7 separate regions of the Homo sapiens genome follow, and all the other regions are reported to be linked to region 6. The links are microRNA targets in miRTarBase. Many come from high-throughput screens and were not tested one by one. Region 6 holds a microRNA gene; each other region holds the end of a gene's coding sequence.

Evidence for each region. The annotated mature microRNA hsa-miR-520h reads ACAAAGUGCUUCCCUUUAGAGU and lies in region 6 at 1,741-1,762, shown strand. An mRNA with a match to its seed (bases 2 to 7 or 8) in the 3' UTR can be bound and repressed. Matches are read on the target gene's strand: a 7mer-m8 pairs with bases 2 to 8, a 7mer-A1 pairs with bases 2 to 7 and ends in A, and an 8mer does both.
Region 1: the mRNA of JARID2 is a reported target of hsa-miR-520h. Seed matches in the 3' UTR shown: 7mer-m8 at 1,276-1,282.
Region 2: the mRNA of RNF19B is a reported target of hsa-miR-520h. The part of its 3' UTR that is shown has no 7-base or 8-base seed match.
Region 3: the mRNA of ZNF785 is a reported target of hsa-miR-520h. The part of its 3' UTR that is shown has no 7-base or 8-base seed match.
Region 4: the mRNA of RACGAP1 is a reported target of hsa-miR-520h. Seed matches in the 3' UTR shown: 7mer-m8 at 3,105-3,111 and 7mer-m8 at 2,395-2,401.
Region 5: miRTarBase lists NEDD9 as a target of hsa-miR-520h. Seed matches in the 3' UTR shown: 7mer-m8 at 1,710-1,716.
Region 7: miRTarBase lists FHDC1 as a target of hsa-miR-520h. Seed matches in the 3' UTR shown: 7mer-m8 at 1,519-1,525.

Annotation. Positions count from the first base shown.
Region 1 is chr6:15,518,621-15,523,012 of GRCh38, reverse strand. It overlaps JARID2 (jumonji and AT-rich interaction domain containing 2), which reads right to left. Exons shown (of 18, transcript NM_004973.4): 18 at 971-2,944. The coding sequence ends at 2,762. DTNBP1 (dystrobrevin binding protein 1) reads left to right here. Exons shown (of 10, transcript NM_032122.5): 10 at 1-206. The coding sequence ends at 38. Among named protein-coding and RNA genes, the nearest start is that of DTNBP1-AS1, 25 kb to the left of the region's middle.
Region 2 is chr1:32,933,365-32,937,943 of GRCh38, reverse strand. RNF19B (ring finger protein 19B) reads left to right here. Exons shown (of 9, transcript NM_001300826.2): 9 at 685-1,495. The coding sequence ends at 1,138. Among named protein-coding and RNA genes, the nearest start is that of RNF19B, 29 kb to the left of the region's middle. RefSeq lists an enhancer at 3,562-3,856 and a silencer at 3,562-3,856.
Region 3 is chr16:30,579,209-30,583,787 of GRCh38, reverse strand. ZNF785 (zinc finger protein 785) reads left to right here. Exons shown (of 3, transcript NM_152458.7): 3 at 345-3,132. The coding sequence ends at 1,228. It also overlaps a transcript of ZNF688 not described here. Among named protein-coding and RNA genes, the nearest start is that of ZNF785, 4.2 kb to the left of the region's middle.
Region 4 is chr12:49,986,962-49,991,540 of GRCh38, forward strand. It overlaps RACGAP1 (Rac GTPase activating protein 1), which reads right to left. Exons shown (of 17, transcript NM_001319999.2): 16 at 3,723-3,831; 17 at 2,201-3,382. The coding sequence ends at 3,307. Among named protein-coding and RNA genes, the nearest start is that of AQP6, 16 kb to the left of the region's middle.
Region 5 is chr6:11,182,505-11,185,504 of GRCh38, forward strand. NEDD9 (neural precursor cell expressed, developmentally down-regulated 9) reads right to left here. Exons shown (of 7, transcript NM_006403.4): 7 at 794-3,000. The coding sequence ends at 2,658. Among named protein-coding and RNA genes, the nearest start is that of NEDD9, 49 kb to the right of the region's middle. RefSeq lists an enhancer at 2,520-3,000.
Region 6 is chr19:53,720,480-53,725,058 of GRCh38, forward strand. MIR520G (microRNA 520g) reads left to right here and starts at 1,687; the gene lies at 1,687-1,776. MIR517B (microRNA 517b) reads left to right here and starts at 597; the gene lies at 597-663.
Region 7 is chr4:152,975,626-152,980,204 of GRCh38, forward strand. FHDC1 (FH2 domain containing 1) reads left to right here. Exons shown (of 12, transcript NM_001371116.1): 12 at 1-4,046. The coding sequence ends at 1,098. Among named protein-coding and RNA genes, the nearest start is that of FHDC1, 42 kb to the left of the region's middle.

The sequences.
Region 1 (4,392 bases), not on the chromosome of region 6:
AGGCCACTCCGGATGGTGGTGAGGACAGCGACTCTTAAATTGGGACATGGGCGTTGTCTGGCCACACTGGAATCCAGTTTTGGCTGTATGCGGAATTCCACCTGGAAAGCCAGGTTGTTTTATAGAGGTTCTTGATTTTTACATAATTGCCAATAATGTGTGAGAAACTTAAAGAACAGCTAACAATAAAGTGTGAGGACGGTAAACTGAGAGCGCACAGAGCTAGTTTGTACACAAAGGCTTCTAAATACACATGTCCTTAAGGCCACTGTAACTCAGGGTTCCTTAGAGTGAAGGGACGTGCAGGTCATTGAGGGCCACCCCGGGAGGTTGCATGTGGGCAGGGCCTGGGCCAGGTGGTGGAGGCTCCACAGGGCTGAGTTCTGCATGAGGCAGGGAATGACCTACCGTTTCACAAGTGGAAAATGCCACTTCCTGTAGAAGAGCTGACTGTAGCCAAACCACTCTGGCAAAGCTTGGGGTTTTCCGTTGATCATTACAGAAGTAAGTAAGTATCATTAGTCCAGTAGCCAGCCAGTCCAACCCCTACTTTTTCACACTCCTGGGCCCAAAAGAACAGAAACAAGCCCAAAGCAATCCTCCATTCTTTATGAAAAGAAACTGGTCCCCTGGAGATGTGTTCCTGCCATCACTCCTCCAGCCCAATGAGAGAGAGGGGACAGACTCCCCGCCGGGATGAGGGGGTCTGTCTGTCTGCAGCCATACCACCCTGAATGCACCCAGTGTCGTCTCATCATGAAAGCAAGCTCAGCAGGGGGGCGCAGCTCGATGGGAAATGAGGGGGACGGCCGCAGGCCACATGGAAACCATTAGGTTAGGCTGAAGGGGACCCAGTGGCAGGTGGGAGCAGGACTGCAGTGTGGGGGGTGGCTCTGCTCCCTGGCTGGGGGGAATCCTCTGCCCCCTGCCCGTGGACGAGAAAAGAAAGAGCTCATTCCATTCAGTCATCTTCCACAAGACAGACAAATGTCCAAAAAACTTTGTTTTTATTATTAAACCTTGTAGTACAAACCTGAAAAGTAAACAAAAAACTCGCAATAAACCACATGAAGTCTCCCTCCCAAGGGAGGGGTGCAGAGCAGCGCTAATAAATTAAATGTCAAACTGTAAGCCATAGGCAGAAGTTTACTGTCAAAAAGAGGGAAAGTACACAGCAAGGCCATAGAAACCGGACAACCACATTGGAAAACACTTGACTGTTTCTGTAATTGTTAAATATTCCAAAACAGTTCAGTCTTCTGCAACAACAACCAACAAAGTGGATCATAGGACGTTCCTGGCAGTCACCACTGGCAAGCTCAGTGCAATATGGGTAGCTACGGGATTGATGAATCCAATTATGAAACAAAGAACAGCTTGTGAAAACAGTTTCCCTTTTTTATTCCACACATACTGTACACACAACCGGAGAAGGGCAACAGCTACTCCATTATTATTTTTTTGTTGTTGTTCAGTGATGTAAGCAGCACTTATAAATGTTACAAGAAAAACCCTGTAAGCATCCAATCCAACCGATGAAGAAACTGAAATGTAAGGCTTTTCTTCATCTTGTCTTCTCACCCCCCTCCCCACCCCCCACCGAGAAAAAGGCTCAAGTATTTAAAACAATTTACAGGCATATGTACAAAAGGGATGGGATTTTTTTTTCTTTTTTCCTTTTTGTTACAACATGAAGAGAAAAAATAGACAAGATGAACGCAAATGCATTTTCACATTCAAAAATAACTGCAGGCCTCCTAGTGGCTCTCTACATGATCATAAATGAAACAAGTTTTAAAAGAAAGATTAATGCTGACTTGTGAAGGTGTCAAACAAGAAGCGGTGAGATGGAGATGGAATGTTAGAAAGATTGCACGTCGATGACAAAGAAGCACTTACGGCTTCCATCACTTTTTTTTCCTTTTTTTTTTTTTTTTTTTTAAATCTTAAGGATGCTATTGAAGGGTTTTTTGATAAAGTAGCCAACAGCACCAAAAAATAACAGAATGGATTTCCTAATGAAATCAGGCACAGGTCTCCCTCATGTGACCCCTCCAAGGCAGGCAGTCTTTTCCGTCTTCCTCGCTCGCTTTTCTTCTTTCCTGGAACAGATGCATAGTGATGTGCTGGTGGAGAGCCCACTCGCTCCCGTCTCCTCGTTCCACCTATGGTTAGGAAACAACGTCCGCCTTCAGCTGCCACAACCGCCCAGAGAAACAAAACGGGGGTGCCCCGGCTTCCCAGATCACAAGCTCATCTGGCACACGGCAGAAGACGACAGCCAAAGCAAAGCCATTTCAAGTTTCGTGTGTGTGTGTGTGTGCGCGTGTGTCTCCTATCCCTTCTAAAAAATCTGCTCACATGACTGATGGTTTTTAAATTTGTTCTCCAAACTTCACCCTCTTCAAAAATGGGTTAAAAAGCCTTTTTCCCCCCAACAGTTACAAAAAAAAAAAAATCAAAACCAAAAAAAAAGGCTTTTGTCAGCCATGGGGCAATACAAATTAATACAGCCCCTCCGGGGTTTTTAAAACAGTGACTATACGGCAGTTTCCAAAATCTGACTGCAGTATCTAGGTTTTCTAAGTACAAAAAAAAGTTCAACAGTTTAATGCTAAAACAAAATTAGTTCTCTAAAACCAGAAGAAAATCTTCTTTAGAGCTAGTGCAAAGACAGCTTGAATCCTACAGCAAGTACTCCAAACTAGAATATAATAATTACAAAAAAATATATATAAATCGACCACGGGCGTTGGCATCTTCATGATGAGCTCGAAGCACTTTTGGATGAACTGGAGGCTGACAGACGGGAGGGGGGCACGTCCACTGTCGCTCTCTTGCGGGGACCTCTTTTTGGTGTGGGTTTACTGAGACAGTTCTCAATGCTGCCGTTTTTACCAGACACTTTGCCGCAGATCTGATTGACCAGACTGATAATCTGTTCCTGTTTGGGGGTGAAAGGAAGACACAGTTAACATACCGTATTAACAAGAGCTCTGTCCCTGAGAGCCATGCAGGGGCAAGTTTAGGGCAGAGGGCAGCGGTCCCCTTCACCACACCAACCAACAGGTTTTAAAATAACCCCGAGAGGCTCAGATGCAGTGAGTCTCCCTTTCCCAGCTCCTCCTGATGCCACATAGCAGGCATGGCCGTTTCATCCTCATCAACACCCTGGTCCACCATGCTTTGCCTGCTCATAAGGGCAGGGCTGGCAGGGGAGCCCAGAGCACTGCCTCTACCACGGAGCACTCAGCAAAGAGACCCAGGGGCTTTGTTACATCCTGGATGGTGACACAAATACCCAAGCTACTTGACTCACTTTAGCTACCGGCCACTGAACCTGGCCATGCAAGTAAATGCAAACACTTCTCAACCTATACATATCCTTGTAATTCACTCAAGAGAATCATTTATCTGTCGGCACCAAAAACTGTGTTTGTAACTTTCACACAGTACATCCTATAATCATATCATTTTTAAAAACAACATGGGGAGGAGTAGCAAACGTGCATCTTATGAGCATCTCTCTGGGCCACGGGTGGCTGGGAACCATGCTGACCCTGGCAGGAGAGGAAGCCAGCCATGGAATGAAACATCTGAGGGCCTGATCTCTAGTCCTCTGAAAAGCCCTCAAGATGAGGGTGAGAAAGTGACAGCTGGCTCCCATCACAAGTTAAAGGTGCCTTCGGAAGGCGGGGCGGTCCACACGTATCTGTAATAACACCATAGTCATGGCTGCTTGAGGTACTGATGATAAACACTGATAAAGGATAAGTGGATGAGCTGCCATAAAACCCATTTAGGCGGCTACTGCTACCTTACCATAAGGACAAGTGAGGAGGAGCGGCAGTGTGCGGTTACAGGAGGACACCGTTCCCTCCCCTGCGTGCAGCTCGACAGGTGGGCAGCACCTGCCCCAGACCAGTGCTCTCACACTAGGCTCGGCGGCAGGCGGCCCAACACCCTGCTCAGCCAGCCTGCAAGGGCCAGAGACACAAATGGCTCCAAACTCCCCAGAGAGCTTCACCATCCATGAGAACCCAAGCCATGAATTCAGGGATTTGCAATCTAGGTGCACCCCCCACCCCAGCAAGGGTGGGTGTTTAAAGCAGACTGTCCCGGGTCAGCAGGCCCAGACATGGGTGATTTGTGTACTGGGCACACTGGGAGGTTGAGAAGATTTTGCAATGGTCTCTGTTTACAAGGTAGAAATTTCCTATTTAAAAGAATGGGCCAGGTGTGGTGGCTCACGCCTGTAATCCCAGCACTTTGGGAGGCTGAAGCAAGCTGATCACCTGAGGTCAGGAGTTTGAGACCAGCCTGACCAACATGGTAAAACCCTGTCTCTACTAAAAAGAAAAATTAGCCGGGTGCGTAGTGGCGGGCACCTGT
Region 2 (4,579 bases), not on the chromosome of region 6:
GGCTTCTTCTACTTGTGGCATGGTAGTAAAAAGCTTTTACTTTTCTATTTTGAGTAAGCTAGCATGGGGCTCTGACCCTTAGTTGAATTTTGGAAGCTCTTTCTGTATGTTTAAAGAGATTGGCTGAGATACACGTGTGTGTGCATCTGAGCACACGTGTGCATGTATAGTTAAATCAGCAAAAAGGATCTAATTACTCTTCTCCATCTCATTTATTTTTATTTTTGTTTTTTTAGAGACAGGGTCTTGCTCTGTCAACCAGGCTGGAGTGCAGTGACACAATCATAACTCACTGCAGCCTTGAACTCCTGGGTTCAAGTGATCTTCCCATCTCAGCCTCCCGAGTAGCTGGGACTACAGGCACGTGCCTCCATGCCCAGCTAATTTTTTTTATTTTAGAAACAGGGTCTGACTTTGTTGCCCTGGCTGGTCTCAAACTCCTGGACTCAGGCAGTCCTCACACCTCGACCTCCCAAAGCGCTGGGGTTATAGGCATGAGCCACCACGTCCAGCCTCCATCTCATTTGAGTGTTAGATTAAAATGTTATTTTTGTTAAAAGTGAGCTCTAGTTAACTGTTCACCTATCTTTTTGAAATTCCTAATCCTGAACCCATGAACTGCTTTTACCAACAGGTTTAGCATGATCCATGCATGACTCAGCAAAGTGGATTTTGTCTCCACAGAGAATGCAACAATATGGAAATCCAAGTGGACATTGAAGCCAAACCAAGCCACTATCAGCTGGTGAGTGGAAGCAGCACGGAGGACTCGCTCCATGTTCATGCTCAGATGGCAGAGAATGAAGAAGAAGGTAGTGGTGGCGGAGGCAGTGAAGAGGATCCCCCCTGCAGACACCAAAGCTGTGAACAGAAAGACTGCCTGGCCAGCAAACCTTGGGACATCAGCCTGGCCCAGCCTGAAAGCATCCGCAGTGACCTAGAGAGTTCTGATGCACAGTCAGACGATGTGCCAGACATCACCTCAGATGAGTGTGGCTCCCCCCGCTCCCATACTGCAGCCTGCCCCTCGACCCCCAGAGCCCAAGGTGCACCGAGCCCAAGTGCCCATATGAACCTCTCTGCCCTAGCCGAGGGACAAACTGTCTTGAAGCCAGAAGGTGGAGAAGCCAGAGTATGAAGTGGAATGAATGCTCCTGTTCTGAGAAGCACACTTGTAACTGCATCTTTTGGAATTTTTTTTTTTTTTTTTCCAAGGGGTAGAGATTTATGTATTTTATTTCACAGATTCTCTGGTCACAGGTTTTTGCCCAGGGAAATTCTGAGAAATTCACAATTTCTTACCAGATAAAACATGAAAAGTTTGCCGTTAGTTCCCCTCCCCTCCCCTCCCTCTTTTTAGTTTTAATTTATTGGTTAAACTGATGGCAGCAATCCATGAGGTGTGTCAAAGAGTGTACATATGTATGTGTGTATATTGAATGCTAAACATATTACTGAAAGACACATTTTAATAAAGATTTCTGTCATAATTCAACTTACCTCATTTTCCTTGGCTTGGATAGTCCCACAGAGCCAAGTGTTTGAAACAAAGCACCATCTTTGACAGTCTCTAGACCTGAATTTTTCTAATCCAAGGGAAGAAGGATTGTATTCAAATCCAACCGCAGTAGTCATCTATAAACCTATGACTCCTAGCATGACAGGAAGCAAAGCTAGGCTTGTTTTGGACTTTGTAGTCAGGCTGAAGAATTATTAGCTGAGTCAGCTGAATAGGGAAGCAGTAGATTAAAACTAACTTTGTTTGCCCTCTAGAAGCAACTGTGCAATTTACTCTTAAAACTTTGCCCTTTTCTGCATTATAGTCACTAGTAGTCATATGCTTCAGAGGAGAGAAGGAGTGGCAGTCCCAGGTAGCTCTTAAGAGAATTCTCAGTGGTCAGGCATGGTGGCTCACGCCTGTAATCCCAGCACTTTGGGAGGCCGAGGCAGGTGGATCATTTGAGGCCAGCTGTTTGAGACCCACCTGGCCAACATGGTGAAACCACGCCTCTATTAAAAGTACAAAAATTAGCCAGGCGGTAGTTGCGCACGCCTGTAATCCCAGCTACTCAGGGGGCTGTGGCAGGAGAAGCGCTTGAGCCTGGGGAGGCAGAGGTTGCAGGGAGCCGACATCACTGCAACTCCAGACTGGGTGGCAGAGACCCTGTCTCAAAAAAAAAAGAGTTCTCAGTGAATGTTGCATGGTTACAAGTTGGAGAACAGAATATTCTGTTATTGGAGGAAGAAATACACTGATGCGCATAATCACAAAGCAATGACATAGGTGTTTGCTGTGTTCTCAGGTATACCACTCCGTGTTCTGATAAACTTTCTCAGTTTTGCTAATCTGGTTTAAATAAAAGGGACTAAAATCTGAGATTTGTAATGAAAGGAGGGGGTATGCCCTCAAAATCTCTGAACATATTTATCTGATCTTACAAATTTGTCAAAATTGAGCTAAGTTTGTACTACTTGGAGTTTTGCCTCTGTGTAAAATAATGTCCTGGCCGGGCACAGTGGCTCACGCCTGTAATCCCAGCACTTTGGGAGGCTGAGGCAGGTGGATCACCTGAGGTCAGGAGTTCGAGACCAGCCTGGCCAACATGGTGAAACCCCCGTTTCTACTAAAAATACAGAAGTTAGCCAGGCCTGGTGGCATGTGTCTGTAATTCCAGCTACTCGGGAGGCTGAGGCAGGAGAATCGCTTGAACCTGGGAGGTGCTGGTTGCAGTGAGCTGACATCACCCACTGCACTGCAGCCTGGGAGGCAGAGGGAGACTCCATCTCAAAAATAAAATAAAAAATAAAATAATGGGCTGGGCGCAGTGGTTCACACCTGCAATCCCAGCACTTTGGGAGGCCAAGGCGGGTGAATCACGAGGTCAGGAGATCAAGACCATCCTGGCCAACATGGTGAAACCCCGTCTCTACTAAAAATACAAAAATTAGCTGGGCGTGGTGGCGCACACCTGTAGTCCAGCTACTCGGGAGGCTGAGGCAGGAGAATCACTTGAACTCGGGAGGCGGATGTTGCAGTGAGCCGAGATCGCGCCTTTGCACTCCAGCCTGGGTGACAGAGTGAGACTCCGTCTGACAAAATAAAATAATGTCCTTAGAAGTGAAAGCTTATATACAGTATAGCAAGAAAATTAGAAGACTCGTGAAACCTGATGTCAGATTCCAAATCTTAGAGTGACTTACTTTGTATGAGTCAGTTTCATGCCCCTAACTTCCCCAACTTTCAGATCTTATTTATGTATTTAGAGACGGAGTCTGGCTCTGTCCCCCAGACTGGAGTGCAGTGGCATGATTTTGGCACACTGCAACCTCAGCCTCCCGGGTTCAAGTGATTCTCAAGTCTCAGACTCCCAAGTAGCTGGGATTACAGGTGCATGCCACCACACCCGGCTAATTTTTGTATTTTTAGTAGAGATGGGGTTTTGCCATTTTGGCCAGGCTGGTCTAGAACTCCTGACTCAAGTGATTCCCCCCACCTCAGCCTCCTAAAGTGCTGGGATTACAGGCATGAGCCACCTCGCCCGGCCCTCAGATTGCATTTAAAGAGCTTCCAGTGTCAGACCTCTCTCACCTTAGTCCTGGGCCCAGAGGAAAAATTGAAATCCTCCTTTCCCTGAAGACCAGATGACTTTCTGTTTCCTTTCACAGATGCACTTTTGTCTTCCTGGCCAGTGTTTTACTACAATGAGGATGGCAAGTCTGGACAACAGCCAGCTTAGAAGATTCTTATCTCTTGGGCACTGCAGCCAGACTTCACACATTTCCCTGCACCTAGGACAGGAAATGCTGTTAGTGGACTTTGGATTTCTGGAAGAATGTTCCCTGAAGGGGGCGTGTACTTGTGTGAAAAAGAGAACTTGTTGGAAAAAGAGGCAGACAGCCTGGAGATCTCTGAAACGCAAATTATCAACTCAAAACTTGGAATTCTCTTGAAGCCTCGAGAGAACAATTCACTTCTTTGATAAAATCAAAGAAGTCTGTTGGAGGGGCAGTAGTTTATGGCTAAACCTATATTTCTTATCTGGGTTCCACTTACTACAGCTGTGAGATTTGGGCAGTTTACTCTGAGTCTGTTTTCACTTAGCCAAAATGGAGATGATGATCCTAGTTAAGGGGTTGTGAAGACTGAGATGGTATACTGAAAATGTTTTTGGTAAAGGCCCATGTTTTTTCCTCCTGCAGGAAGAAGAAGAAATGAGTTAAAGGAGATTTTAGATATCATATAAGAAAGGAAGCCTAGACCTCTAGGCCAGAGGCTATGAAAAATTTAAATTTATTCTAATCCTTAGCGACACTTTAGTAGATGAAAAGGCCCATCATCACCACCTAGAGGCGAACACAAATAATGCATTAGAAAAGTTACAATAGCTTGGCCGGGCGTGGTGGCTCATGCCTGTAATCCCAGCACTTTGGGAGGCTGAGGCGGGCGGCTCACAAGGTCGGGAGATCGAGACCATCCTGGCTAACACGGGTGAAACCCCGTCTCTACTAAAAATACACAAAATTAGCCGGGCGTAGTGGTGGGCGCCTGTAGTCCCAGCAACTCGAGAGGCTGAGGCAG
Region 3 (4,579 bases), not on the chromosome of region 6:
ATTTCTGGCCTCAAGCGATCCTCCCACCTCAGCCTCCTGAAGTGCTTGGATAACAGGTGTGAGCCATGGCACCCGGCCCGACTCCTCTTTCATTATCTCCAGTGCTCAGGGCCTTCTTGTGTTAACCTGCAGACCATGGCATTTGCTTTTACTCCAGGCTGGCTTTCAGGGCTTCATGAGGCCCCTATCATTAAGCCGTGCTCCCTGGGCGCCATATTCTGAACCATTCCTGCTGCCTTCCAAGGCAGGACATGGTCCCGGAATATGCTGGTTTTGACTTTATCATCTTTCCTGTCTCAGGATCCAGGGATGAGTTTCTGATTTTATCATCTTCCCTGTTTCAGGATCCAGGGATGGGAATGAGGAGAAGGAAAGGCTGAAGAAGTGTCCAAAACAAAAAGAGGTGGCGCATGAAGTGGCTGTCAAGGAGTGGTGGCCCAGCGTCGCCTGCCCAGAGTTCTGCAACCCTAGGCAGAGCCCCATGAATCCCTGGCTCAAGGACACTCTGACCCGAAGACTGCCCCACTCTTGCCCAGACTGTGGCCGCAACTTCAGCTACCCTTCCCTCCTGGCCAGCCACCAGCGGGTCCACTCCGGGGAGCGGCCCTTCTCCTGCGGCCAGTGTCAGGCGCGTTTCTCCCAGCGCAGGTACCTGCTCCAGCATCAGTTCATCCACACCGGCGAGAAGCCCTACCCCTGCCCCGACTGCGGGCGCCGCTTCCGCCAGAGGGGTTCCCTGGCTATCCACAGGCGGGCTCACACCGGGGAGAAGCCTTACGCGTGCTCAGACTGCAAGAGTCGCTTCACTTACCCCTACCTGCTGGCCATCCACCAGCGCAAGCACACGGGCGAGAAGCCCTACAGCTGCCCCGATTGCAGCCTCCGTTTCGCCTACACCTCCCTGCTGGCCATCCACAGGCGCATACACACCGGCGAGAAGCCCTACCCCTGTCCTGACTGCGGCCGCCGCTTCACCTATTCTTCCCTCCTCCTCAGTCACCGGCGCATTCACTCCGACAGCCGGCCCTTCCCCTGCGTGGAGTGTGGGAAAGGCTTCAAGCGCAAGACCGCCCTGGAAGCCCATCGGTGGATCCACCGCTCCTGCAGCGAGAGGCGCGCGTGGCAGCAGGCCGTGGTGGGGCGTTCAGAGCCCATCCCTGTTTTGGGAGGCAAGGATCCCCCAGTTCACTTCCGGCACTTTCCAGATATATTTCAAGAGTGTGGGTGATGGCGTTCACACAAACTGGTCAGCGTTTCCCTGGAGAGGAAGAGGCAAGGTTTGTGTATTTGGGGGATAAGGAAAGGAAGTGGGCGTTTGAGGAAAACAAAGTTCTGCCTTAGGTAAAAAGCAGAGGTAGGGGCACAGAGGGCTGTGGGGAGGAGGCAGGAATCTGAAAAGGTGCCTGGGGGTTGACCCCATTTTCTGAAGCTCCAGCACACAGGGCCCCGTGTTCACGTCCCATCCTTCACTGAAAACCATTCACCTAACTGGCTTTTCCTTCATGATTGTTCTCTCCCTTGTAGCTCTCTGCTTTTTGGCCTGTATCTCTCCTACTCCTCTGAGATGGGGTCCCCTACATTCCAGTGCCTATTAAAGGAGCCTGCACCCACTCTGGACCCCCCAGAATAGAGGGGATACCTCAGGCCTGTCCCTCGGCTGGTGGGGGGGGCGGAGCTCATCCCAGGATTCTTTTCTTTTTTTTGAGATGGAGTCATGCTCTGTCGCCCAGGCTGGAGTGCAGTGGCGTGATCTCGGCTCACTGCAACCTCTGCCTCCTGGGTTCAAGCCATTCTCTGCCTCAGCCTTCCCATTAGCTGGGATTACAGGCATGCGCCACCAGGCCCAGCTAATTTTTGTGCTGTTAGTAGAGACGGGGTTCCACCATCTTGGCCAGGCTGGTCTTGAATTCCTGACCTCGTGATCCACCCGCCTCGGCGTCTCAAAGTGCTGGGATTACAAGCGTGAGCCACCGACCCCTGCCGAGGATTCTGCCTTTTACCAATGCAGGTGAAACATCTGGCAAGGAGACACCTGGAGTGTAGGTGTTCCTTGGTCTTGAAGACCTAGAGGTGGCCATAGAGAGGACAGTGGCCTCAGGTGGGGAACTCCCCCCCCACTCTCATTCTGCAAGTGCACAAACTATCAAACATAGCGGACTCTGGAACTGGGCCAACTCTTCACTGTATGCATTAGTGATTGCAGTGTTTTTTTCTTCTTCAGATATTTGCATGTTCCCTGGATTTTGTATTTTTTGATAAAGATATATTCTTGGGCCACAGTAGCTGGAGATATAATGCCGGAGGATTCTTTTTTTTTTTTTTTTTTTTGAGACAGAGTCTGTCTCTATTGCCTGGGCTGGAGTGCAGTGGCCCAAGCTACGCTCACTGCAAGCTCCACCTCCTGGGTTCACACCATTCTCCTGCTTCAGTCTCCCGAGTAGCTGGAATTACAAGCACCCGCCACCACGCCCAACTAATATTTTGTATTTTTAGTAGAGACGGGGGTTTCACCGTGTTAGCCAGGATGGTCTCGATCTCCTGACTTCGTGATCCTCCCGCCTCGGCCTCCCAAAGTGCTGGGATTACAGGCGTGAGCCACTGCACCCAGCCTCTTTTTTTTTTTGAGATGGAGTTTCGCTCTTGTTGCCCAGGCTAGAGTGCAATGGCATGATCTTGGCTCACTGCAACCTCCGCCTCCTAGGTTCAAGCGATTCTCCTGCCCCAGCCTCTTGAGTAGCTGGGATTACAGGCACCCACGACCATGCCTGGCTAATTGCATTTTTACTAGAGACAGGTTTCACCATGTTGGCCAGGCTGGTCTCCAATTCCTGACCTCAGGTGATCCACCCGACTTGGCCTCCCAAAGTTCTGGGATTACATTTTTTTTTTAAAGAAAGAATAAATTAATTGTGATTAAAGTTGAAATCAAGGCATAGTCTTTCCAGTCTAATTTTTACTGTAATGCTTGTATGTCAACAGTTATGAAGGCCAGGCGCGGTGGCTCACGCCTGTAATCCTAGCAGTTTGGGAGGCTGAGGAGGGTGGATCACTTAAGGTCAAGAGTTCAAGACCAGCCTGGCCAATATGGTGAAACCCCATCTCTACTAAAAATACCAAAAAAAAAAAAAAAAACGGCCAGGCACGTTGGCTCACACCTGTAATCCCAGCACTTTGGGAAGCCGAGGCGGGCAGATCACGAGGTCAGAAGATCGAGACCATCCTGGCTAACATGGTGAAACCCCGTCTGTACTAAAAATACAAAAAAATTAGCCAGGAGTGGTGGCAGGTGCCTGTAGTCCCAGCTACTTGGGAGGCTGAGGCAGGAGAATGGCGTGAACCCGGGAGGCGGAGCTTGCAGTGAGCCGAGACTGCGCCACTGCACTCCAGCCTGGGTGACAGAGCGAGACTCCGTCTCAAAAAAAAAAAAAAAAAATTAGCCAGGCCTGGTGGCGTGCACCTGTAATCCCAGCTTCTTGGGAGGCTGAGGCAGAAGAATGGCTTGAACCCAGGAGGTGGAGGTTGCAGTGAGCCAACATAGCGCCACTGCACTCCAGCCTGGGCAACAGAGCAAGACTCTATCTCAAAAAAAAAAAAAAAAAAAGGCCTGGTGTGGTGGCTCACGCCTGTAATCCCAGCACTTTGGGAGGCTGAGGTGGGTGGATCACGAGGTCAGGAGATCAAGACCATCCTGGCTCACACAGTGAAACCCCATCTCTACTAAAAATACAAAAAATTATCCGGGCATGGTGGCGGGCGTCTGTAGTCCCAGCTACTGGGGAGGCTGAGGCAGGAGAATGGCATGAACCCGGGAGGCGGAGCTTGCAGTGAGCTGAGATCGCGCCACTGCACTCCAGCCTGGGCGACAAAGTGAGACTCCAGTCTCAAAAAACAAAACAAAACAAAAAACAACAGTTAAGAGAGTTCTTTCTGGCCCATTTAGATCTGCTAGCCCTACTTTTGAAGAGGAAACTTTTGAAGGAATGAACAAAAGAGGTAGGTGGGACTAAGCATTTCTGCATTCCAGGACTGGTGGTCAGTGACTCAAATATCTCTTTGAAAAGACTGCTTCTTTGAATCCTTGGGTTCCAAGATAATTAATGGGAACTGGTGCCGGGCACGGTGGCTCACACCTGTGATCCCAGCACTGTGGGAGGCTGAGGCTGGTTAATCACTTGAGGTCAGGAGTTTGAGACCAGCTGGGCAATATAGTGAAACCCCATCTCTACCAAAAAATTAGCCAGGCGTGGTGGCACATGCCTGTAGTCCCAGCTACTCAGGAGGCTAAGGCAAGAGGATCACTTGAGCCTGGGAGACAGAGGTTGCAGTAAGCTGAGATGGCTCCATTGCACTCCAGCCTGGGCTACAAAGCAGGACTCTGTCTCAAAACAAAAACAGATACAAAAACTGGGAACGGGGTGTTATCTTTACTTCACCACATAGCCTCTCCTGAATTGGTGGACCTGGATTCCTAGCTTGGCTCAGTCCCCACTGGCTGTGTGGCCTTTAGCATCACCTAGATTCTACAAATAACATTTTTCTCTATTTGTTTTACACATGTCAATCTGCCTATCCATCCCTC
Region 4 (4,579 bases), not on the chromosome of region 6:
CAGGAGGATCACTTAAGTCCAGAAGTTTGAGACCAACCTGGGCAACATCGTGAGACCCTGTCTCTATAAAAAATTTAAAAATTAGCTGGGCATGGTGGGGCATGCCTGTTGTCCCAGCTACTTGGGAGGCATAAAATAAATAATAAAATAAAAAGAACACAAGACCAATTTCAATGCCACAGGCTCAGTTCATAACCAAAAATGAGTACTTTTTTCCCCTGGTAAATCAATTGCGCACCCTAAATGTCCTCTGACCAAAACTCACATTCCTTCTTCTATCTCTGCAAGCAATGAATTCACCCTCTTAAGGAAGGATAAGTTGTTAAACACCCAGTAATAAACTCAAATTGTTGCAGCTGAATCCAACCATGTAATGCTTGCCCAGTTAGATAAACATCAAACTAGGGAGTCTTACATAGATCAGGGAGAATAAAGGTAAATATCACAACTTAAAGATTCTGTTTATTAGCAAGTGCGATAGTAAAATTAAACTGCATTAAAAGAGAGGAATGTCAGAAAGGGTTAGGAGTAAGAGATGGACTGATGGCTACTCCAAAGCACTGGACCCCCTTCCACAGCCCTCACATTGAGGAGGTATAATTAAGAAGGCCCTGGAAAGTCAGGCTGTTCCGCAGGAAGTACTGTTAAAGAAGTTGAAGGTGGGTATATATTTCCCTTTGCTATTATCAGAATTATTTTCATGGCTAAGGTCTCTTGGCCTAGCCCAAAAACTGAGCAAATGGTTGCCAACATTTGACACACAGGACCATTTCCTTTTTCGTTAATGGACCATTGGTTCCTGCATAGGGTAGCCTTGCCTTCACTAATGTTACACAATCCATTTACTTCCTCTACATTAGTGACTGAAAATGCACCTTGGGGAGATACTACAGAACAGCAAATATGGAACCAGGCCAACGCTAGGATTGCAAAGACATAAGAAAAGAGGTAGCATCTAGGGCAGTTTTAAAAAACAAGGCCTAGCAGGCGTGTGTGAAAGGGGGTATGGGACCCATCCTCTGTCAATTTGCTGAGGCAGATGGGCCCTGCTGTGAAGCTGCCCCCTCCTGGGAAAAAAGCCAGTAGGTTGCCTCCTCTCTCCACAGTTACATATTAAGCCTACAACTGTTTACGTTCAATCTCAGATACATTCTGTTCACCAGCTTCAGAGTTCCAAGTGCAGGTGCCCTCAGTTAATCATCCCAGCTCACTCCAAAGTCACTTCCAGCAGTGAAGGATGTTCTAGGCAGTCAGCCAGCCAGAGGCAATTTTTTTTTTTATCTGCACCATTCTGGTCCCTAAAGACTTGTTTAAAAAGTTGTTGTTGTTGTTTTATTTTTTAAGTACAGTCACACACTACATAACGTTTTGATCAATAAGGGATCCCATATACAACAGTAGTCACATAAGATTATAATAACCATAGTTTTACTGTACCCTTTCTATGTTTAGATACATAAATACTTACCATGCGTTACAGCTGCCTACAGTGTTCAGAACAGTCACATGATGTACAGGTTTGTAGCCTAGGAGCAATAGGCTATACCATACAGCCTAGGTGTGTAGTAGGCCACACCATCCAGGTTAGTTTAAGGACACTCAGGTTCACACAACAATGAAATCACCTAATGAAGCACCTCTCAGAATGTATCCCTGTCATTATGCAACTCATGACTGTGGTTTCTTTAAACAAGACAACAGGCATAGGACAACTCTACAACTCCAGTTTGGACAAAGAGAGACTGGATGAGAAATGAAGAAACAAACTCCCGGTGGTGGTAAGCCTGGGGTGGGTCCAGAGAGTGGGAAATGGGGATGAACAACAGAGTCAAGACACTTTGAAGGAAGTAATTTTTTCTTTTTTTTTTTTTGTGACAGGGTCTCACACTCTGTCACCCAGGCTGGAGTGCAGTGGCACGATCTCAGCTCACTGCAACCTCTGCCTCCCAGGCTCAATTTTCCCACATTAGCTTCCCAAGTAGCTGGGACCACAGGTGTGCACCACCACGCCCAGTTAATTTTGTATTTTTTGTAGAGACAGAGTTTGGCCATATCTCAAACTCTTGACCTCAGGTGATCCACCTATCTTGGCCTCCCAAAGTGCTGGGATTAGAGGCATAAGCCACCAAGCCCAGCCCCAGAAATGATTTTCTAAAAGGCATTGAAAATTACCTTGCAAGACAAGAAAACCAGCCTCATGTTCATTTTGAAAAAGCTATTTACTTTTTTTCCAAATATTATCCCAAATAGGTGTTTTACAGATAAGGGTCAATACGAAGTCAAACATTCTACAGAAGAAAATCGTTTTTACAGACATTAAGAATAATTTTAACAGAAGAAAAAGCTCACATCTATCTAGATGTGGCTATGTTCCATGGGAAAAATTTCAGCATCCAAAGTGCAAAGAAAAAATGACTGTAGCTTTTCTTACCACAAAATATTGACAATCTTCCCTTATAGCCTACTCTTTATTGTTAGTTGGGATGCCAAAGGATGATATATTGACCTTTAGAAGTTGGGCTCCACTGGACAAGGTTGGGGGTATGGGGGCCAAGCATCAGAATGAATTCAATTTTAAAAGAAAAACTGGCTTTGACCCCAAATGAACCCAAAGTTCAGCCAGCAGCACATCAGAGATAAATACGAGTTGTACTTTCACATTTACAAGGTTGTGCCACTCAACACTATTAAAGACCTAATCATCCAAATCAAAGCTACGCATACTCCCATCACTAGTTCTGTCCTCAATGCATCCCATTTTTATGAAAGCTCCATATTATAGCTCAGTTCATAATGGGGAATGAGAACTTCTGGTTCTTAGAAGGAGGCATCCTAAATCCTCTGGTCTAATCCTTTCTTTGCCCTGCCCTCCCACTTCCCACCCTGAGACAAGCTAATCTTATCAGATAGGTAGGGTTTCTGTCATTGTCTCACGGAAATCAGTTCTAAATGAAACTAGAGAAAGATCATTCTATGAGCAGCATTTGGCTTTAAGCCAAAGGAACAATAACCCCCTTCCCCAAAAAGAATCACAACCAATTCCATACTAACCCTTCTACCCCTGGAAAGATGTCTCATCTAAAAGCTCCCAACAATGACCAGCACAAAGTGCTGATATTATGTGACTTGAGGAGAAGGAAGGGGAGATATATATAGTTTTAATAAAACCCTCATGCACAATTAAACTTGAGTAAAAGCCTGGAGAATGCTAAAAGTAGTAATGAGTACAGGAGGCTGCAGAGCAGAGTACAGATGTGTCCTTTCTTATAGTCAGTCAATGCTGGGAAGTAACAGGCAGATGTGACTTCACTTGAGCATTGGAGAAGCAAAAAAGTTGCCTTGTCGTCCTAGGTTAGTGGCAGACTTGCTTTTGCTCCCAAATCTACAATAAAAAGAGAATGAACTGGAAAAATATTCTATAAAAAATGGTTGAATAAACAACTATAATATTACTTGATATAACCCATTATAAGTAGGAAACCCTAGACAACTATTTTGCAATAGTTGCTTAAGTATTCTTAGTCACCAACAACGAGAGAGGGGAAATAGTAAAGACTTTCAGAACCTTTTTAAAGAAGGAATCCTTATAGCCCCACGTTCCCTTTTAAAGTCTAGTTGCTAGCTAAAATCGAATGCAATTTTTCTTTCAATAAGCTTCAATATAATAAGAAGTCTAAGAAAGTAGTTGTTTTTTATTTCCTAGGAAGGCCAATTCTGCATACCTAGGAGTGTTCTTGGTGAGGGTGGAACGGACTCTCTGTGACAGGGAACTAGATGAAGGAGTCTTGAGAAGCTGATGTTCAGGAGTGGTCACAGGTCCCAGTAAACTCACTTCAAAGTTCAGACATATTTTTAAGAGAGGTGGGAAAAAAGAAGGCATCTTTTTAGATGGCTAGTTTTAAGCTGATTACCCTCTGAAGCACTTAAGAGCTAAGGTTAGACATCTAGCAAAGTCCCAGAGATCATTTTTGTCATCATTCTGTAACACACTAGTGTATCTTTTGAACTCAATGAATAGCTGACACGTCCTGATTTAGGCCATTCTCTAACTCCACACTTCACAAATCTAACATCTAAACATCTGACTTTTAGCTATACTAGAAGAAGCAATATGCTCCCTTAGAAGGAACTTGCAATAATGAAAGAATGGGTCTCCAATGCCAGTGAGACTGGAGTGAAACCAGCCTATTCATATAAAATTGTTGGTTAGCAATATAAATTGGCAAAAGCCTATAAGAAATTTAATAAATCAAGTTGGTAAAACATACCAAGACACATAAAAATGTTCAAGCCATTTAATTCAGTGATCCCACTCTTAGGAATTTATCATTAAGAGAAATGCTATATTGACTATAGCATTACTTGTAATTATGAAAAATTGAAAAATAATGTTAATACCTACTAGAACATTTAAGTAAATGATAAATAAGATTATACATGAGAAAAAGTTCTCACAACATGCTAAGTGAAATAAGAATGAATTATATTTAAACTATTATATATATATATATATATATATTTTTTTTTTTTTTTTTTTTTTTTTTTTAGACAGAGTCTCACTCTGTCACCAGGCTGGAGT
Region 5 (3,000 bases), not on the chromosome of region 6:
TTTCTGAGTTAAGTTTTTAAAGTGTTTCAAATATGGAAATTTTGTCTACCTAAGATAACAAAGATTTTCTCCTGTGTTTTCTTCTAGGAGTTTTAAGTTTTACATTTAGGTCTATGATCCATTTGGGTTAATCTTTGGGTAGAACGTAAGGTACACATTCATTTTATTTCATAGATCTAGTTGTTCCCGCACCACTTTTTTTTTCGGAAGAGTTTTCATTCCCTCCTTGAAGTGCCTTGACATTTTGTCAAAAATAAATTAATGCTTATATGTGTGGGCAAAATGGTACATGATACATTTAAATAATTTGTCTGTAAATCTCAGTGGGATACCTGAATAAAAGAGTGGGCCAACCATTAAAAATGATAATTACATGATTACAAATCTCTTATTTTCATTAAATATAGTTTGCTTTAAATTATTTCTTTATGACTATTCCAAAACAAATAGAAAAATTTTCTTTGATTCTAAAAACCACATGACTGGTAACATCCATATTATGAAAACAAATCATCCTATATGTTACTGAGTGTATGGGTTTTTTGGTGAACACAAGTCTTGTTCCAGATATTTGAATTTGATAATGTTCACAGATTCTAGAATTTTCTTTGAATGCAAATACACTTGGAAGTGACACATATACAGAGAAAACCAAACCCTCAATTTTCCTAAAAAAATCCAGACCTATAGCATTGCTAAAATAATCATAATTTAACTTTTTATATTAGGAGTACCAAAGTAAGCCAATATTTAATTCTGTGACAGAGGAGTATGAAAAAGAAAACCCAGTGGCTATGAAAACAGAGATCTAAAAATTTAATGATTTAAAAATAGCCTCTACATACAAGACGGCAAAGAGTAATACAGATTGAACATTTGGTTTTAAAAATGTGAAATGTCTCCACTTAGCGTAGATCAATCAAGTCAGCCATCTCCTAAGAAATACACATTATACAATGAAATCTACAAAGACACACTTTTTAACTTCAAGCGTTGTTGATTTTCAGCAACCCTCTTCCCACATGAACATTTCCTTGTAATGTAATGTATGACTTTTAATCTTCTTTTGGCAGAGTAGGACTTTGAGAATTATAATAGCAGTTGTTTTGAAAAGCACCTTCTATGATCATTTATTTCCACTGATTTTTTTTTAATCACTCTGAGATCATGCATTCTTGTTTTTTAAATCCTTTTCTGTTCCAATGATTTGGTTGTTTAAAACAAGCAAGCTTAATTCAGTCAGGCATATATTGCAAATAAAAACATGTTTCCAAGTAGGCTGGAATAAAAATGCTAAATAAGAACTGGGCCAAAAGATCATAGATAATGTGCTTCTTCTCTTGGTAATATGTGAATACATTTACCCATGGGGTAGAAGTATTTCACCTGCCCCATGAAGAACCTGATGGCTTGTGGTGTCTGTGCTGTGTCAATACTAACAGATGTGAGGAGACAGACTATGGAATGGACGCTGTGACTATCTGTGAGATAGTGGAAGGGGTTATACACACTGGCCACAGGAAGTTGCAAAAATTAGATGGACTCTGTGTAGCTAGCCACTCTTGAGTGTCAGGTCTGCATATGTGAGTTTTAAAGAAGGTGCAAGATAGCAATAAATTCCCTTAGAGAGCAGGATATGTCCTGGTAGCTCTATAGTTCCATGATCAAGGACCTGGCCAGTTTCCCTCAGGTAATGGGGGTAGTAGCACCAAAGTGAATATTAAGAGTCAGAAAGGCCTCTACTTGCAACTGGCGGATCAAACCATTCCCCTATTTTGGTGAACAATCATAGTCTGATACGCCTTTGTAAATCTTTGCTGCAAATATGGTTTTTACAACTCTAAAAACATCTTTTGGAAAACCTCATGACTGAACCACTCACAAATGCAGAAGATTGAACAGCCCCAGGGAGGCAATTGCTCTCCTTTTATTGTAGCTGTCTCTCAGTATTGAAACAACCCAATCCTAACTGTGGTCCTGGCCTCTAAACACACAGGTCTCTCTTCCCTCCAGCACCTGAACTATCAGAGCTTGGATCCACATATATATTCTGAAATTTGCTCCGCAAGAGGGCTTTTGGGCACTTGGCCATCATGTGTTTAAGATGGTCAGTTTTGAAAAGAGTTTTCCAAACAAGAATAAGTCATGCTATGCCTCATGATTTGGAAGGTGAACACTTGCAAATAAACTATGCTTCCCAGATTTGGGAGTGCCAGGCTCAGAATCATCACAAGGACGTGGAGAACAATATTATAACCAGCTGGTATGTTTTTAACAACAACAAAAAAAATGCAGCATTAGAAGGTGCTTACTAAGGTGCTTCGTAATTCATGGTTTTTTTTTTAATGAAATGCATCAGACAAACATCTACAAACAAACATGAATACATGGGCATACAAAAGCACGTGGACAAGTTTTCTGTACAGTTTATGTCTCAGATACTTCTATGTATACATAAGAACCACTCAGGGGGAAAAAAAAAGATTTCCCTCTCCAGCTCCCTGAATTTCTGAAAGTTGACTGACCCATAAAATGTTAAAATATTTCATTTTTATATAAAATATCTACAAAAATAGATAACATTTACAAAAACCAGACAGTATTTCCAGTTTTCCTTAGTAACCGTTAACGCAGTCCCCTTCCTCTTTTTTTTCTTCTCAGAACGTTGCCATCTCCAGCAAAGAGCGCTTGAACAGCTGGGCATTTCTAGAAAGGTCTGTCACTTGGTGCACCATTTCCTGCAGGGCCGTGGTGCTGGGGTAATGGAGGGCGGCCATCTTGGTTGCCATGACTATGGTCTTGAGCTGCTCGCAGAGCTGGTTGCTGGAGTTCATGACTTTGTTGCGAATGTCCTGGGCAGTCACCTGCCGTGTCAGCGTGTCTCCAATGAACACCAGTTTGTGTGCACTGAGGATGACAAACTTGCTGTGTGCCACGAAGATTCGCGGGGGCTGGGCTGAGCTGACACAACTGAAGAGTGCGTCAATGGCGTTGAGAAGG
Region 6 (4,579 bases):
CATCTCAGGTCAGGAGTTTGAGACCAGTCTGACCAACGTGGTGAAAATCCGTCTCTACTAAAAATACAATAACAACAAAAATTAGCCCAGTGTGGTGGTGGGCACCTGTAATCCCAGCTACTTAGGAGGCTGAGGCAGGAGAATTGCTTGAACCCGGGAGGCAGAGGCTGCAGTGAGCCGAGATTGTGCCACAGCATCCAGCCAGGATGACAGAGTGAGATTCCGTCTGAAAAAAAAAAAAAAAAAAAAAAGCTGGGCGCTGTGGCTCACGCCTGTAATCCCACCACTTTGAAAGGCCGAGGCGGGTGGATCACGAGGTCAGGAGATCGAGACCATCCTGGCTAACACGGTGAAACCCCATCTCTATTTAAAAATACAAAAAATTAGCGAGGCGTGGTGGTGGGTGCCTGTAGTCCCAGCTACCCGGGAGGCTAAGGCTTGAGAATGGCTTGAACCCAGGAGGCGGAGCTTGCAGTGAGCCGAGATCGTGCCATTGCACTCTAGCCTCGGCAACAGAGCAAGACTCCGTCAAAAAGAAACAAAAACAAAAACAAAAAAAAGAACCCTACAGTACTGGAGCAAGAAGACCTCATGCTGTGACCCTCTAGATGGAAGCACTGTCTGTTGTCTAAGAAAAGATCGTGCATCCCTTTAGAGTGTTACTGTTTGAGAAAAGCAACGTTGAAGATGCTGCTGATCTTGGTAATACATTTGCAGAGCGTGCTTATCATCAGACTTGCATGATGTTGGGGTTCTCTTTGGTTTGTTTTTTTCCAAGACAGGTTCCCTGTTGCCCAGGCGGGAGTGGGTGGCACCTCCAACCGAGATCTCTTGGGCTCAAGTGGTGATCTTTTTATTTTTGATTTTTTGAGATGCGCTCTCATTCCGTTTCCCAGGCTGGAGTGCAGCGGCAGGATCCCTGTTGACCGGAAACTCCGCCTCCCAGCTTCCGGCGATTCTCCCACCTCAGCCTGCCGAATAGTTGGGAATAGAGATGCCCGCCATCGTGTCCTGCTAGTTATTATTTTTATTGTTGTTGTTGTTGTTGAGATGGAGTTTCACTCTTGATGTCCAGGCTGGAGTGCAGTGTTGCAATTTAGGCTCACTGCAACCTCCACCTCCTGGGTTCAAGCGATTCTCCTGCCGCAGCCTCCTGGGTAGCTGGGATTACAGGTGCCTACTGCCCCACCCAGCTAATTTTTGTGTTTTGAATAGAGACTGGGTTTCACCATGTTGGGCAGGCTGGTCTCAAACTCCCGACCTCAGGTGATCCACCAGCCTTGGCCTCCTAAAGTGCTGGGATTACAGGCGTGAGCCACCGCCCCTAATCTCACGTGGTCCTCTAGAGTCAGCCTAGACTCTGGTCTATCCTGGAGGATGTTTGTGTGTGAGACAATGTATATTCTTCAACATCAGCCCAATTCTCTTAGCTAAATGTAAGGTATGAGTAGTAGGTATTCCTTTTTCTCTTTGGGGACAAAACTCAGGACGATCGCCCCTTGATGAACAAGGCTAACCTGCTGAGCCTTTGAAGCAAGGAATTGGAGATGGTCCTTTCAGGGGTTTATGTTCTGGATTCCATAAAACATGTAAACAGGGCCAATAAATGCATTTTTATTTTTGTATCCGTTTTAACCTGGTCAAGGAAAATTCCAACAAGAAACCCAGAGTGCTGGAGCAAGAAGATCCCATGCTGTGACCCTCTAGAGGAAGCACTTTCTGTTTGTTGTCTGAGAAAAAACAAAGTGCTTCCCTTTAGAGTGTTACCGTTTGGGAAAAGCAGTGTTGAAGTTGATGCTGATGTTGGTAATATATTTGCATGCTTATTATCAGACTTGGATGATGTTGGGGTTCTGTTTTGTTTTTGTTTTCTAAGACAGGGTCTCTGTGGCCCAGGCTGGAGTACAGAGGCACTTCCAACCTAGGTCTCTTGGGCTCATATGGTCCTTTTTGGGACAGTCTTCCTCTGTGACCCAGGCTGGAGTGCAGTGGCACGATCTTGGCTCACTGCAATCTCCACCTCGCGGGTTCAAGCTATTCTCCTGCCTCAGCTTCCTGAATAGCTGGGATTGCAGGGGCCCGACATCACACTTGGCTAATATTTGTATTTTTCTTTTTTATTCATTTATTTATTTTTGAGATGGAGTCTCGTTTCCCCAGCTGGAGAGCGGTGGCATGATCCCGACTGACTCCAACCTCTGCCTCTCAGGTTCAAGCAATTCTCCTGCCTCAGCCTCTGAAGTAGCTGAAACTACAGGTGGCCGCCACCACGCCTGGCTACGTTTTGAATTTTTTTTTTTTTTTTTTTCAGTAGAGATGGGGCTTACCATGTTGGCCAGGCTGGTCTCAAACCCCTGACCTCAAGTGAGCCACTCACCTTGGCCTCCGAAAATGCTGAGAATACAGGCATGAGCCACCACCGCGCGCCTCCCAAAGGCGTGAGCCATGGTGCGTGGCCATCAACACCTCTTACTTTATGGAAATTTTTCTGGCACTGGTATAGAACCTCACATGGGGTCAGGTGGAGTTGAGGGGACCTCAGTGTCCCTGCAGATGGGATGAGCAAGAGCACGGAGGTGGAGTGCATGGGGCTTCAGTGTGTATTGGGGAAATGAAGCTGAAATCTTGGGTGCATGACCAGGAGATAAATGCATGAGACGGGGGTCTCACTATGCTGCCCTGGCTAAAGTGGTCTTAGATCCTCCTGCCTCTGCCCCTCCCAGGCCTTGTTAGATGGGACTACATGTAAATATTAACCCATGCACAGGCAGGAAGAAAGTAAGGACCATTTTTTGGTTCGTCCCGGCCCTCAGTTAAACTTGTGTTTTAGATAAACAATGTATTTGAGATGTGCTTAAACAATAAATGATACGCTATTTAGGTGTGGGCATCTTTGTTTCCCCCTAATTTTAATGATGGGACTAGTCCAGGTATGGTGGCTCCTGCCTATAATTCCAGCACTTTGGGAGGCCGAGACAGGAGGATCACCTGAGGTCAGTTGTTCGAGACCGGCCTGGCCAACATGGTGAAACCCCGTCCATACTAAAAATACAAAAATCAGCCAGGCCTGGTTGCACACACCTGTAATCCCAGCTACTCGGGAGGCTGAGGCAGGAGACTCGCTTGAAGCCAGGAGGCTGAGCTTTCAGTGAGCTGAGATTGCGCCACTGCATTCCAGCCTGGGCAACTGAGTGAGTCTCAGTGTCAACAAAGTAAATAATAGTCTAGGCACAGCGGCACACGCCTGTAATCCCAGCACTTTAGGAGGCTAAGACGGGAGGATCACCTGAGGTCAGGAGTTCAAGACCAACGGGGCCAACGTGGCAAAGCCTTGTCTCTACTAAAACTACAAAAATTAGCTGGGTGCGGTGGTGCACATCTGTGATTCCAGCTACTCGGGAGGCCAAGACAGGAGAACCACTTGAACCCAGGAGGAGGCGATTTCAGTGAGCTGTAATGAAGCCATGGCATTCCAGCCTGGGCCACAGAGCAAGATTCCGTCTCAAAAATAAATAAAACAAATAAAAATACGTAGATAAATACGGGACCGTCGTGAATTTGAGTGTCACCTTTGTGGAGCAGCCACGGTAATCTCTGTCATTCCAATTTTTTTTATGTGCACTACCAAAGCAAGAACTTGTGTAGGAATTATTCTTCCTGTGAGTATGCGATGTATGGAACTTTCCTTGAGACAGGGTCTCAAAAATATATCATGTATATTTTATATATTCTTATCATATATAATATAATCATGTACACACAAAATACTCTTCTAAATACAGAGAATACTCTGATATCACCTTGCGTATTTTTTGTTTGCATGTGTCTGTGTTTGGTTGTTTTTTTTTTGTCATATTTTTGTATCCCTACTTATATATTTATTTTTAATTTTATTATTATACTTTAAGTTCTAGGGTACATGTGCACAACGTGCAGGTTAGTTACATATGTATACATGTGCCATGCTGGTGTGCTGCACCCATTAACTCATCATTTAGCATTAGGTATATCTCCTAATGCTATCCCTCCCCGCTACCCCCACCCAACAACAGTCCCCGGTGTGTGATGTTCCCCTTCCTGTGTCCATGTGTTCTCATTGTTCAGTTCCCACCTATGAGTGAGAACATGCGGTGTTTGGTTTTTTGTCCTTGCGATAGTTTGCTGAGAATGATGGTTTCCAGTTTCATCCATGTCCCTACAAAGGGGTTGGTTATTTTTGAGACAAGGTCTGACTCTATCGCCCAGGCTGGAGTGTAGTGGTGCCATCTCGGCTCACTGCAACCTCCACCTCCCACCTAATCCTGCTGAATTAGTGTCTGCAGGCATGCACAACCACATCTGGCTCACTTTTGTATTTTTTATACACATGGGTTTACACCATGTTGCAGGCGCTGGTCTCAAACTCCCTCCCAAGCTCAGGTGATCCTCTGTCTCAGCCTCCTAAAGTGCTGGGATTAGAGGTGTGAGCCACCACACCCCACTGGTATTTGTGTGTTCCTGTTCAAATTTTATTGAGGAGTTTTTATAACCAAGCCTGTGGTCCATCCTGGAGGATGTTTGTGTGCATGACAATGTATAT
Region 7 (4,579 bases), not on the chromosome of region 6:
TGCTCACTGACCCTGGACTGCTCAGAGGGAACCGACTCCAGACCCAGAGGCGGGGACCCGGAGGAAGGCGGGGAAGGGGATGGCTCCATGTCCTCTGGGGTTGGAGAAATGGGGGACAGCCAAGTCTCCTCCAACCCTACATCCAGCCCCCCTGGGGAGGCTCCTGCCCCCGTCTCTGTGGATAGTGAGCCCAGCTGCAAGGGCGGCCTGCCCAGGGACAAACCCACCAAAAGGAAAGATGTTGTAGCACCAAAGAGAGGCTCCCTGAAAGAGGCGTCTCCCGGGGCCTCCAAGCCCGGGAGCGCCCGGCGGAGCCAGGGGGCAGTGGCCAAGTCTGTGCGGACCCTGACCGCCTCAGAGAACGAGAGCATGCGCAAGGTCATGCCCATCACCAAGTCCAGCAGAGGCGCCGGCTGGAGGCGACCAGAGCTGTCATCCCGGGGGCCCTCCCAGAATCCCCCCAGCAGCACAGATACTGTGTGGTCACGCCAGAACTCCGTGCGGAGGGCCTCCACAGGCGCCGAAGAGCAGAGGCTGCCGCGGGGGAGCAGCGGCTCCAGCAGCACCCGTCCGGGGAGGGACGTTCCCCTGCAGCCCAGGGGTTCTTTCAAGAAGCCCAGTGCCAAACCACTCAGGAACCTCCCCAGACAGAAGCCTGAGGAAAATAAGACCTGCCGCGCCCACTCCGAGGGCCCTGAGAGTCCCAAAGAAGAGCCCAAGACCCCGTCAGTGCCCAGCGTCCCCCACGAACTACCCCGTGTCCCGAGCTTTGCCCGGAACACAGTGGCCTCCTCCTCTCGAAGCATGAGAACAGATCTTCCTCCCGTGGCCAAAGCCCCCGGCATCACTCGGACAGTGTCGCAGCGGCAGCTGAGGGTGAAAGGGGACCCCGAGGATGCCGCTCCCAAGGACAGCAGCACTTTGAGGCGAGCCAGCAGTGCCCGGGCCCCCAAGAAGCGCCCAGAGTCTGCGGAGGGTCCCAGTGCCAACACGGAGGCCCCTCTGAAGGCCAGAGGGGCTGGGGAAAGGGCCTCCCTCCGTCGGAAGGACTCCAGTCGGACCACGCTGGGGAGAATCCTCAATCCCTTACGGAAGTGATGGGTGCCTGTCCTCTCCTGCCTCCTGGGATTCAGACGGTGAAGACTGACTTCTGGGACGAGGATGGGGAAAGAGGCAGCATGTCTTTGTTACAGATAAAGCAGCCACTGGTGCCACTGCTAGTGACGCTGTTGGGATGGCACAGTCCAGGAGGCCTGTGGACTGCAGCCTGCTGTGCTGAGCCCTGCTGCAGTCCAGCGTCCAGATGGATGCACGTTCACTACTGTGACGGCCGCACCTCCCCCATGCACCCCACCCTCCCCCAAAGCCCGGATCCCGAGAAAGATTTAGTAGGAGTGTAAAGTGACATTCTTATGAAACAAGTCAAAAAAGTTTTTTTCAGGCCAGTTTTTATATATCAAAGACTTTCTTTTTAATATAAAAATTAGCTAGGTGCAGTGGTTCATGCCTGTAATCCAGCACTTTGGGAGGCTAAGATGAGTGGATTGCTTGAGCCTAGGAGTTCGAGACCAGCCTAGGCAACATGGAGAAACCCCGTCTCTATCAGAAATACAAAATTTAGCCGAGTGTGGTGGCACATGCCTGTGGCCCCAGCCACTCTGAACGCTGAGATGGGAAGGTCACTTGAGCCCAGGACCCCACCACTGCACTCCAGCCTGGATGACAGAGTGAGACCTTGTCTCAAACAAAACAAAACAAAAATGAAATGTTCTAGTTTTGGTTCCTTTTGCAGAGTGAAATGCCTCCCAGGAAAAAAATACATATGTATTTTTTTGCGACAGGGTCGTGCTCTTGTCTCCCAGACTGGACTGCAGTGGCACAATCATAGCTCACTGCAGCTTTGACCTCCCAGACCCAAGTGATCCTCCCACCTCAGCCTCCCTCAGAGCTGGGACTACAGGCGTGCACCACCACGCCTGGTTAATTGTTTTTTTTTAATTTATCTTTTGTAGAGATGGGATCTCACTATGTTGCTCAGGCTGATCTCGAGCTCCTGGGCTCAAGTGATCCTCCCACCTCAGCCTCCCAAAGTGCTGGGATTACAGGTGTGAGCCACCACACTTGGCCAGTATATCCTCAGTATGAAGATATTTTTATCTTCCTGTGTTCTCTGGCTTCAGAGTTTCACCTGCCCACACAGGGTCCGTTGCTGGCAACTGGACTTCCCCATAAGCCTTGGGTATCCTGTGATGGGCTGTGTCTCCCTGAAGATTGTCTGGCTTGCCCACTTCTCCGTGCATGACTCTGGGTGTGAGTCTGTCTAGGAACAGGAGGGAAAGTTGGACTCAGACAGAAATCAGATGCTTCCATGTATTCAGGGCGCGCATTGTGAGCAGTGGAGTATGAGCCTTGAGGGCCTCATGGTTGCAGGGCAGGCTTCCCTGCAGATGGGTGGCAGCCCCTGGTAGAATGCTGGATTTCTCTGGAATCTAGAAGTGCCATATTTTAGTGGAAAGGCATCAGGGCTGTTTGACAGTGTGCGTCTTTCCAATCCCATGTTCCTCCATTCGTGTGTCTGTTATAAAACTGAGTGAAGGCTGCTATGACCTGTGTTCACTCTGGTTACAGGGAGGTGCAAACCATTCTGTCTCCCAGCCTTTCTTCTCTCTTTGTGTGCTCCCAGCACTTCCTTCTTTTCTAACATGGCCTGGAGAGAGTCTCTCTCTCCTTGTCTCTGTCTCTTAATAATAGTTTTTAACGTGGACATCTCTTCCTTGGTACAGTGGTTTTTAAATACTGAGAAGAACCAAGTCAGGTTTTTTAAAGCAGACTAAAAGCATGAAATTGCTTTCAGAAGAATGTATATCATCGGGAAAAGTTCGGGGGCAGAGTGGGGGAATCAGGCTTTATTCAAAAGAAACAGTTGAAAACATGGGACTTTTTCTACCCAATGCCCATTTCACGACTCCTCTGAGACTAATTGGGAAACGGGGAAATTCTTGGAATTTTTTTTTTAAGAAACTTTTTTGTGTTTTTTTTAATTTTAGGTCACTTATTAGTGAAACCTCATTTTAGATCTGACATTGGTAGATAGATGGATTTAGGCAAATATGATGCGTTTGTGGGGAATCCACGTGGTTGACGTTAGAACCTCCCTTCTGCAGACTGTTGCCTGTCATCTAAGCGAATTGGAAATGCTGAGCTTCCATAAGTCAGCTGAGTTTTAAAGGTAAACGTTATGGCTGAAATAGTAAAGCACCTGACCACAAAACCTCTTGTAAAAACAGCCCTGAGTAGGTATTTCCAGGGCTCCACAAAGTTGCTTATGGGAATCCTGAGCTGCTTTTCACCATCTCAAGAAGCCTAAGAAGTTATATATTTAATCAGGTAGACAAAACAGTTCAAAGCATAAGGTCCATGGTGGTGGAAAATGGATGCAAGTGATTCTAAGTTTGTGGATTTGTGGATAGCAGAGGGATCGGGACCTCTTGGAGGAACCCTGGGTACCAAGCTCCCAGGCCCTTCCTCTATCATGGATGCTGGGTGACTTTGGGAAGTCACCACCTCTTCCCAAGCCTGTTTCCCATATCACAGATGTGGGGCCATGGCCTCGATGATGGTCTCCACAGGTCTTTCCACCTCTGTGAGTCCAAGTCAGGTCAATCAGCAAGGACCCATCTCTGCCCTGGGTCAGCTCCTCAGAACCAACCCCCAGCATCTCTAAAGCAAAAGCCTCACCTCAAGGGCTGCTCAGAAGAGAGCACCTTCAGCATGAGTTGTTGCTGGAAGATCTAATAAGCTGTGTTTCCTGGGAAGTGGTGCTTTACTTAGCCCTGTGGACAACTTCTCTATGCATCTGTGTGAGCAGATGATCATTGTATTACCTTTTATCGGTAGTAAGCTTGGAAAAATAATTTAAGAATACAATGGAGAAATGTAAATAAGTATCTATGTAAATTTGTTTAAAATAAACTGAATGTATTTAATGGTCCATTTATATGTTCTTTTATGTAACATGTAGTTTAATAAAGTTCCTGTTTATGAGAGTCATGTTTCATCTCAGCTTCTTCCATGGATGTGTCTGTGTGATCTTGCTGGGAGAGTATTCAATTTCCTGCCCAGAGAGAAGCAGAGATCCAGGAGGCTAGGGAGGGTTGGGATACAGCTGACTTGTCCTCCAAAGGCTCAAGAGCCTAAATGAGGCTGTTGGCTGTGTGTCTTCTTGATAGCACAGAACCTGCTCATAATTGAGGGCTTAGGGAGTGGGCCTTGCCCCAGGCCGTGGGGATGTAACCCCGCCTCTGACACGCAGGCTGTCGATGAAGTGCGCAGCTCACGTTATTCCATGCTGAGCTGAGTTTTTTGTCATCTCCGTGGGCCTGGCAAGTCTAAATGGTGTCCTGGGTGTCCTGCATTTTGGTTCAGGACACCATTAGGAAATCACAACTCACCTCATGGCTGACTCAGGAATGAGCAGAGAGGAGGGAGAGATGGCTTGATATGACCGGCATTGTGCATATTTGAAAAGGAGTGGCGATTGTGCCTCAGATACACCTCATACCTCGGATTATGTCATGTT